Linked DNA regions of Homo sapiens: region 2 is linked to region 1. The links come from fine-mapping of genetic effects on gene expression. A gene starts in region 1. The other region holds a variant in brackets. All regions are shown on one strand. Distances are from middle to middle. Region 1 holds the start of TM4SF19 (transmembrane 4 L six family member 19). Region 2 overlaps TNK2 (tyrosine kinase non receptor 2).

Region 1 (4,502 bases):
AATTCTGTGTTGAGGCAAATTAACCACCCAGGGTGTTAACAACTCACAACTTTAATCCACTGCCCACCCAGATGTCTGACCGGGGCCCAAGGAAAGATGGGTGTGTGGTTGGCCTTTCAAGCGGGTGCTCTAGATCATGGGGCCAGGAGACGCCGTTGTGCAGGAATGCATTTAGTGCCTTCAAATCACGGCACCTCTGAGAAAGCACCGTCTACACACTTCAGCAACATCAACCCCCCTGACGATCTCTTCTACAGAAAACGTTCCCATCAGAAAAGTCTGTTTTTTTTGTTTTTGTTTTTGTTTTGTTTTTTGTTTTTTTTTTGAGACAGAGTTTCACTCTTGTTGCCCAGGCTGGAGTGCAATGGCGCGGCCTCAGCTCACTGCTACCTCCGCCTCCTGGGTTCAAGTGATTCTCCTGCCTCAGACTCCTGAGTAGCTGGGATTACAGGTGCACACCACTACGCCCGGCTAATTTTGTATTTTTAGTAGAGATGGGGTTTCTCCAGGTTAGCCACGCTGGTCTTGAACTCCTGACCTCAGGTGATTCACCTACCTTGGCCTCCTAAAGTGCTGGGATTACAGGTGTGAGCCACAGCGCCCAGCCCAGAAAACTCTTAAAGGGGAAACTAAAAATGATGGACAGCGAGGGAAAACTACCAGCTGGAGCATGGCTTTTGGATGAGTGGAATTCAGAGCCCTGGCTGTCCGCCAATCAAACACTAAAAGCACTTGCCGCACTGCGGCTTCGTGTGAATTTCACCCCTCCTCCTGACTTTATTCCCCTAGAAATTATAACATTTGGAGAAACCCTTCCAAAAATGTGAACCAGGAGGTTAGCAAAGAGGTGGCCTAATTTGATATCTGAAGAGACAAGCAAGATCAGAAGGTAAAACCTTAAAACCAGGCTGCTGGGGAGTTCCTTGTTCTGTCCTGAGGTCCTAGCTAGGTGAGCACGTCATCGGCTAGATGTCCAGGCAACAACAGAAGTGATCGGCTCAATTCCATGGAGGAAGAGACCGCACATTCTCTACATCTGTGTCTCTCCCTCGCCACCCAGCAAGGCTTTTCTTTCATTCTTCCTTCAGTCGGATATTTATTAAGTGATCACTACCTGACAGACACTTGGGGGGCTAGGGATATAACGATGAAAAAGATGTAATCCCTTTCCTTGAGGAGCTTAAAGTCTAGTGGGGACACTGCTGACGCAAAAAGCAATTCTTTTTTTTTTTTTTTTTTTTTTTTTTTGAGACACAGTCTCGCTCTTGTTGCCCAGGCTGGAGTGCAGCGGCATGCTCTTGGCTCACTGCAACCTCCGCCTCTCGGGTTCAAGTTATTCTCCTGCCTCAGCCTCCCAAGTAGCTGGAATTACAGGCATGCACCACGCCCGGCTAATTTTGTATTTTTAGTAGTGATGGGTTTTCGCCATGTGGGTCAGGCTGGCCAAAAAGTAATTCTAATCAAGTGTGGTAAGAAATAGAGCAGACATGAGCAGGGCGGGAGAGGGCCTCTACCCCAGTAATGTCAGGTGACTATCAGGTGATGGCCAGGCGGTTGTTACACTGTCTTTCTAAAATAATATTGGTCACAGCCAGCGTTGGGAAAGACAGTCTCCCAATAGATAGAAAATACCTGAACTTGGTGATCAGCAGCTTCCTGGTAAGAGCTCAGGAATTGGGCGAGTGGGCTCAAGCATCTACACTAAGAAGCAAAATGGTGGAGTTTAGCTGGTGTGTGTGACCTTCCTCTAGTGCTGCTCCGCGGGTAAGGGAAAAACGCCTCAAGTGAGCATGCGCACGACTTCAGTAAACACACTGCGCATGCGGCCCCTCCCAAGTGCCTGTGCGGCAGGCAGGCGCCAAGTCAAGGGTCTAACAGCACATTTGGGTGTCTCAAGTCACGCACTTGGCCCTTTTCCAAGTGTACTTTACTTCCTTTCATTGCTGCTCAAAAACTTTTTAATAAACCTTCACTCCTGCTCTCAAACTTGCTTCAGCCTCTCCCTCTGCCTTAAACCCACTTCTGCCCCTCAGCCGAATCTCTCCCCCGAGAAGGCAAGGATTGAGTTTGCTGCAGACTCGCTGGATTCACAGCTGGTAACAGTAAGTACCAGGCAGGGGCATCCAACTTAAGGTGTCATGGAAGCACATGGAGGAACCTAATCCTATCTGGCAGAAGCAAAACGAAGCTTCCCGGAGGAAGGGCTGCCCATGCCCAAACTTGATGGACGATGAGATACTAGGCAGGAAGAGTATTCTAGGTGCAAAGGCCAGAAGTTGACAGACTGAGGCAACAGGAGAAGGTAAGTGAATGGCGCAAAGTCACACAGACGCCAAGCTGCAGAGCCAGGCTCACTGGAGTGGAAGCGTGCACTCTCATCTGTGAGGCTAGGCTGTTCCCTGGCCGTCACCTCACCCTTTCATCTCTGCTTACCTGCATCTGGTGTCAAGAATCAGAATGGGAGAGACAGAACCTGGAGAAAGGCTGCGTCTTCAGAGTGGGGCTCCACTCCTCCAGCTCCAGGGCTGGACCTGAAGGTTGTCTTTCCAGGACTCTTTCCAGGAGGGCCAGGGAGGCTCTGTATATACGTAGAGGTCACCCAGGCGTGTGTGTGTGCGCGCCCCCACGCCCCTGCCCACAGGCCTGCATTGAAGGCGCTTCCGCTCCCCGGAGAGCCCTGTCCTGATGACCCACCCTCTGCTCATTTTCATGTGATTCTAAGGCAGGAAACGGGAGACATGGCCTCATGAGCTCCGCTGTCCTGATGAGTCACTGGATGCACCCGTGAGAAACACCTCACCCTCCGCTCTCCCCAGGCAGCAACACTTGCCACACCCCAGCTGTTCCTGTCCTCATCTGCCACCCCGCGAAGAATTTCGGCTCTTTGACAGAACAGCACCGAGCAGGGCAGCCACCCCTTTTTCCTCATCACTCTCCTTACCTTGCCCTTGGCTGACTCGATGTGTTGCATGGTTCCTGTACTAGACGTCTAACTTTTTTTTTTTTTTTTTTTTGAGACAGGGTCTCACTCTGTCACCCAGGCTGGAGTGCAGTGGCATGATCTCGGCTCACTGCAACCTCCGCCTCCCACACTCAAGCAATCCTCCCACCTCAGCCTCCTGAGTAGCTGGGATTACAGGCACCTGCCACCATGCCCGGCTAATGTTTGTATTTTTAATAGAGACGGGGTTTTGCCATTTTGGCCAGGCTGGTCTCGAACTGCTGACCTCAGGTGTTCGCCTCAGCCTCCCAAAGTGCTGAGATTACAGGTGTGAGCCACCGCACTCAGCCTCTTGTTCAAGCCCCAGGCCACTATCATCTTGTACCATACTCTCACCAAATTGCTGAGGATTTTGTGGTGCTCTCTGTGTGGGAGATCCGTGACCCTCTATGGACAAGCTCCTATTCAAGATTCAGTTCAAACATTCCCAGTGAAGTCTGCCAGGATTTCTTTACTCCGAGTTAGGTACTTCTTTCTCTATGCTCCCATTGCATTTTAAACATCTAGATATTATATACAGTAAAGTGCACAAATCTTTTCTTTTCTTTTTTTTTTTTTTGAGACGGAGTTTCACTCTTGTTCCCAGGCTGGAGTGCAGTGGCACAATCTCAGCTCACTGCAACCTCTGCCTCCTGGCTTCAAGCAATTCTCCTGCCTCAGCCTCCCAAGTAGCTGGGATTACAGGCACGTGCCACCACGCCTGGCTAATTTTGTATTTTTAGTAGAAACACGGTTTCTCCATGTTGGTCAGGCTGGTCTCAAACTCCCGACCTCAGGCGATCCACCCGCCTCCGCCTCCCAAAGTGCTGGGATTACAGGTGTGAGCCAGCACGCCCAGCCTAAAGTGCACAAATCTTAATGTTAAAGTCTGATGAATTTTTACATGTATACCCTGGTGAACCAGCACAGAAATCAAGATACAGGACATTCCAAATCCCCAGAGGTTTCATTGTGTCGCCTGTCATTCGTATCCCTTGTCCCCAGTGTTAACTTTCATTTTGGCTCTTATAATAATTGATTAGGTTTTAGTTGTTCTTGAATTTCACATAAATGGAATCAAACAGTTTTCTTTAAAAAAAAAAAAAAAAAAGGCGGTTTTGCTGTGTCATCCAGGCGGGAGTGCAGTGGCACAATCATGACTCACTGCAGCCTTTTGCCTTCATAGGCTCAAGTGATCCTCACACTTCAGCCTCCTGAGTAGCTGGGACCACAGGCAAGCGCCACCACGCCAGCTGATTTTTTAATTTCGTGTACAGATGGGGTCTCACCATGTAGCCCAGTCTGGTCTCGAACTCCTAGGCTCAAGTGATCCTCCTGCCTCGGCCTCCCAAAGTGCTGGATTACAAGCGTGCGCCACCGCGCCCAGCCCAGTATGGCTTTTGTGTGTGGCTTTCTTCACTCAATATTCTATATGTAAGATTCATCCATCATGTAATTTATTTTTCTTTTATTGCTGAGTATTATTACATTGGATATTACAACTTTTTCTACTCTTAATGGA
Region 2 (4,000 bases), 460 kb before region 1:
TCCCCGGAGAACCCTCCCCTGGAGAACCCTCCCCTGGAGAACATTCCCCTGGAGAACCCTCCCCTGGAGAACCCTCCCCTGGAGAACCCTCCCCTGGAGAACATTCCCCTGGAGAACCCTCCCCTGGAGAACCCTCCCCTGGAGAACACTCCCCTGGAGAACATTCCCCTGGAGAACCCCCACCAGGCTGGGCTTCCTAGGGTTCCACAGCTTCCCGAGAGTAAGGCCAGGGTGAGGAGGGGAGAGTGGCGGGTCGGGGGCTGAAGCCCGGGCGAAAGGGTGAAGAGCAGATTCCGCCCACGCGTGCCGTGCTGAGGGCCCTGGAGTCCCGAGCGGGGCCAGGTCAGCATCCATCCCCGCCCAGTACTCACTCGTCAATCCTGTCCGGGAAGCCCCAGCAGTGGCGGGGGTCACTGTCGCCATGCCCTGTGTGGATGAAGCTGTTCTGCAGGGGCTGGCTGATGTCCTGGGCCGACAGGCCGGCCACGGAGGTCACCACGTTGCGAGGGAAGGGCCCCACACACAGCGTCCGTGTGTTCTGGCCACGCCACCAGTAGTTCTCGGCCCTGCGCGACAGAGATGGCACGGTGAACGCCAGGCGTGGCGGGGCAGCCCCGGCACTGGGACCCTCCTCACACCCTGGCCACTGTGGCAGAAGGGGGATGGAGCTCAGGCCTCAGGACCAGGCTGTGTGCCACCGGCCCTCCTCCCCAACAGCCCCCGTGACCCACCATGCCCCGTACAGGCCTGTTTGCACACGGCCTTACCCACAACTCTCTAGGTGGGTCAGGCAGCTTTCCCTATGGTTTGCAAATAAGGAGGCACGCTGGAAGCTGCTGCAGCAGGCAACATGACCTGTCCACGGTTACCAGAAAGATCCCAGCAGACCTGGGACCCAACGCCAGCTTTCAGGTCTGTGGGGCCAGCGCCCCGCCCACACCTCCTCCTCACCCCTCAGTTCCCTGGCAAGGCCGGGGCCCCAGTCCTCTTCTGGCCACTTGATTTCACTCCTCGGCTGGGTTCCAGGAGTTCTGAGAGGTGCGGGGGTGCCGGGGGACACCTAGGGCCTTGCACTAGGCTGGGGGCCAGGCCTCCAGCTACAACCTGCCTCCCGAATGCAGACGCGGGAGAGTCTAGGAGCACTCGGGCAACTCAGTCCCTCCCTCCACCGCTTCACCTGCTTCCGGAGCTTTCCACCACCTCCCGGAAGGCCTGCGGGAGCCTCCCCGTCTCCTCAGGAGGGGCTCTACCTGTGTCCAAAAGGGAACTCAGCTCTCCCACAGTGACCAGACAGTAGGGCTGCCAGTCCCCCTCTGACCTCAGACACGAAACCTCTGCTGATGTGGCCTAAGCCGGGGCCTGGGCAGGGGCAGGGGCAGGGGCAGGGGCAGGCAGGCCAGGAAGCACAGGGCTCCCGCAAGACACTCCTGACTCCCGAAGGCTCTCACAGGTTGTGAGGCTCCCGCGTCTGCTGCTGGACTTGTCATACGTGATGCCGTGAGCAGAGTCTGGGCAGGCGGGGGCGGTGAGAGCCCCGTGGGCAGTGTCTGGGCAGGCGGGGGCGGTGAGAGCCCCGTGGGCAGTGTCTGGGCAGGCGGGGGCGGTGACAGCCCCGTGGGCAGAGTCTGGGCACGCGGGGGCGGTGACAGCCCAGAGCTGCTAGGGTGGACACGTGTGGCACCACACTGCACGCCCTCCCCACCAACCCCCACTTCTCCTGTCCCAGGGCCAAAGCGTGAAGAAGGGCTCCTCTGAAACCCAGCCAGGCCGGGGAGAGAGGACGGAGGAGGTGGCGACGCCTGGGCACCCAGACCCACAGCCTTGTAAGGTGACGAGGCCTGGCTGGAGCGGGGTGACTCCGGAACAGCCCATCCCAGAGACCAAAGTCAAACCCGAGAGCACCACGGTCGGCGGGGAGGCGGGGGGCGCGGGGCGCGGGGAGACGGGGCTGTGCTCCCCCTGCCCAGCCTCCTCATACACAGGGCCACTGGCCTGGCCCCACCACACACAGCCACCCTGTGATTCCCACCCTGCCTGCAGGGAGGGAAGGAAGGAGAGAGGACAGTACCCCGAGACGAGACGAGTCCCATCTGAAAAATAGCAGGGCCACTCGAAGGAGCAGAGCCCCGGCTCCCCAGCACGCACACAGCCTCCCACGGCGGCCCGTAGAGGAGGAACCCCGGCACCGGCTGGGCTGCGGCTCTCCCGCTACACCCACGGGCTCCCCGGTGGCTGCCGCGGGCCAGACGCCGGACTCTGCTCTCCACACCTCTTCAGAGGCGCTCAGTAACTGGG[T/C]GAGAATGCCGCTGAGGCCGAGACCTTGCTCAGAGCAGCGTGACTCGTGCCCAAGGCAGGTCACTCCGTCTGGCCTCTCCCTTCCGCCAACACTGCCCAGCTCCAGGCACAGAAGCCTCCTTTGGGACCCACTTCTGAGAGGGAAAGGAGACATCAAGCCCACCTCCCTTAGTGCAGGTATGGCCGAGGCAAGAGCCCCCATGGCTGCTGGGAGTCCTGACACCACTCGAGAAAACATGCTTGCTCCTGGGGGAAGGAGAGTAAGAGTGCGGAGGACGTGTGCAAGAAGCTCCCCTCGGGATGGCGCCCACGCACACTCCGAGGCACAAGAAACTCCCCCTCGGGATGGCGCCCACGCACGCTCCGAGGCACAAGAAGCTCCCCCTCGGGATGGCGCCCACGCACACTCCGAGGCACAAGAAGCTCCCCTCGGGATGGCGCCCACGCACACTCCGAGGCACAAGAAGCTCCCCTCGGGATGGCGCCCACGCACGCTCCGAGGCACAAGAAACTCTCCCTCGGGATGGCGCCCACGCACGCTCCGAGGCACAGGAAGCTCCCCTCGGGATGGCGCCCACGCACGCTCCGAGGCACAGGAAGCTCCCCTCGGGATGGCGCCCACGCACACTCCGAGGCACAAGAAGCTCCCCTCGGGATGGCGCCCACGCACGCTCCGAGGCACAAGAAACTCCCCCTCGGGATGGCGCCCACGCACGCTCCGAGGCACAAGAAGCTCCCCTCGGGATGGCGCCCACGCACACTCCGAGGCACAAGAAGCTCCCCTCGGGATGGCGCCCACGCACGCTCCGAGGCACAAGAAACTCCCCCTCGGGATGGCGCCCACGCACGCTCGGAGGCACAGGAAGCTCCCCCTCGGGATGGCGCCCACGCACACTCCGAGGCACAAGAAGCTCCCCTCGGGATGGCGCCCACGCACACTCCGAGGCACAAGAAGCTCCCCTCGGGATGGCGCCCACGCACGCTCCGAGGCACAAGAAACTCCCCCTCGGGATGGCGCCCACGCACGCTCCGAGGCACAGGAAGCTCCCCTCGGGATGGCGCCCACGCACGCTCCGAGGCACACGAAGCTCCCCTCGGGATGGCGCCCACGCACGCTCCGAGGCACAAGAAACTCCCCCTCGGGATGGCGCCCACGCACGCTCCGAGGCACAAGAAACTCCCCCTCGGGATGGCGCCCACGCACGCTCCGAGGCACAAGAAGCTCCCCCTCGGGATGGCGCCCACGCACGCTCGGAGGCACAGGAAGCTCCCCCTCGGGATGGCGCCCACGCACACTCCAAGGCAGCTTCATCCCAAGGCTCCAGTGGGACTTCCAAGAGGACCGTGTCACTTCTCGCAGCCCACACGCACCCGTGTGAGGCTCAGTGTGGCCGAGGCACCAGCAGTCCAGAGGGGACTGAGGCCAGCCCTTCCTTCCAGGCCCGCCCTGTCCGCGCCCTCTCTCTCCCGCCATGAACAGGCCGGAGTCCCCGTGGCCATGGGAGGGCCAGGGCTGCTACCCGGCCGTGACTGAAGCAGGGGCGGATGAGGACTTCCTGGGGGAGCAGGAAAAGGGCCCAACACCTCCGCATGAACCTTCTACCTCCTGCTGCCCCCGGGCCTCTGGTCAACATCTCTGGGGTAGACAAGATGGAAAACAGAGGCCGGTGCTGAGAACTGCCTAAGGCTGCCCCAGCTCTGGAAA

The links. PIP is the estimated chance that this variant, and not a neighbour inherited with it, causes the effect.
Region 2: its variant is the best candidate, but not a certain one, in a credible set for the expression of TM4SF19 in visceral fat (GTEx, PIP 0.61).

What each region holds. Positions count from the first base shown.
Region 1 is chr3:196,335,831-196,340,332 of GRCh38, forward strand. TM4SF19 (transmembrane 4 L six family member 19) reads right to left here and starts at 2,558. Exons shown (of 5, transcript NM_138461.4): 1 at 2,434-2,558. TM4SF19-DYNLT2B (TM4SF19-DYNLT2B readthrough (NMD candidate)) reads right to left here and starts at 2,590. Exons shown (of 6, transcript NR_037950.1): 1 at 2,434-2,590. RefSeq lists enhancers at 2,082-3,281, 2,648-2,942 and a silencer at 2,691-2,862.
Region 2 is chr3:195,871,905-195,875,904 of GRCh38, forward strand. It overlaps TNK2 (tyrosine kinase non receptor 2), which reads right to left. Exons shown (of 16, transcript NM_001382273.1): 10 at 372-566. Among named protein-coding and RNA genes, the nearest start is that of MIR6829, 8.5 kb to the right of the region's middle. The variant T/C (reference allele first, on the strand shown) is at 2,296.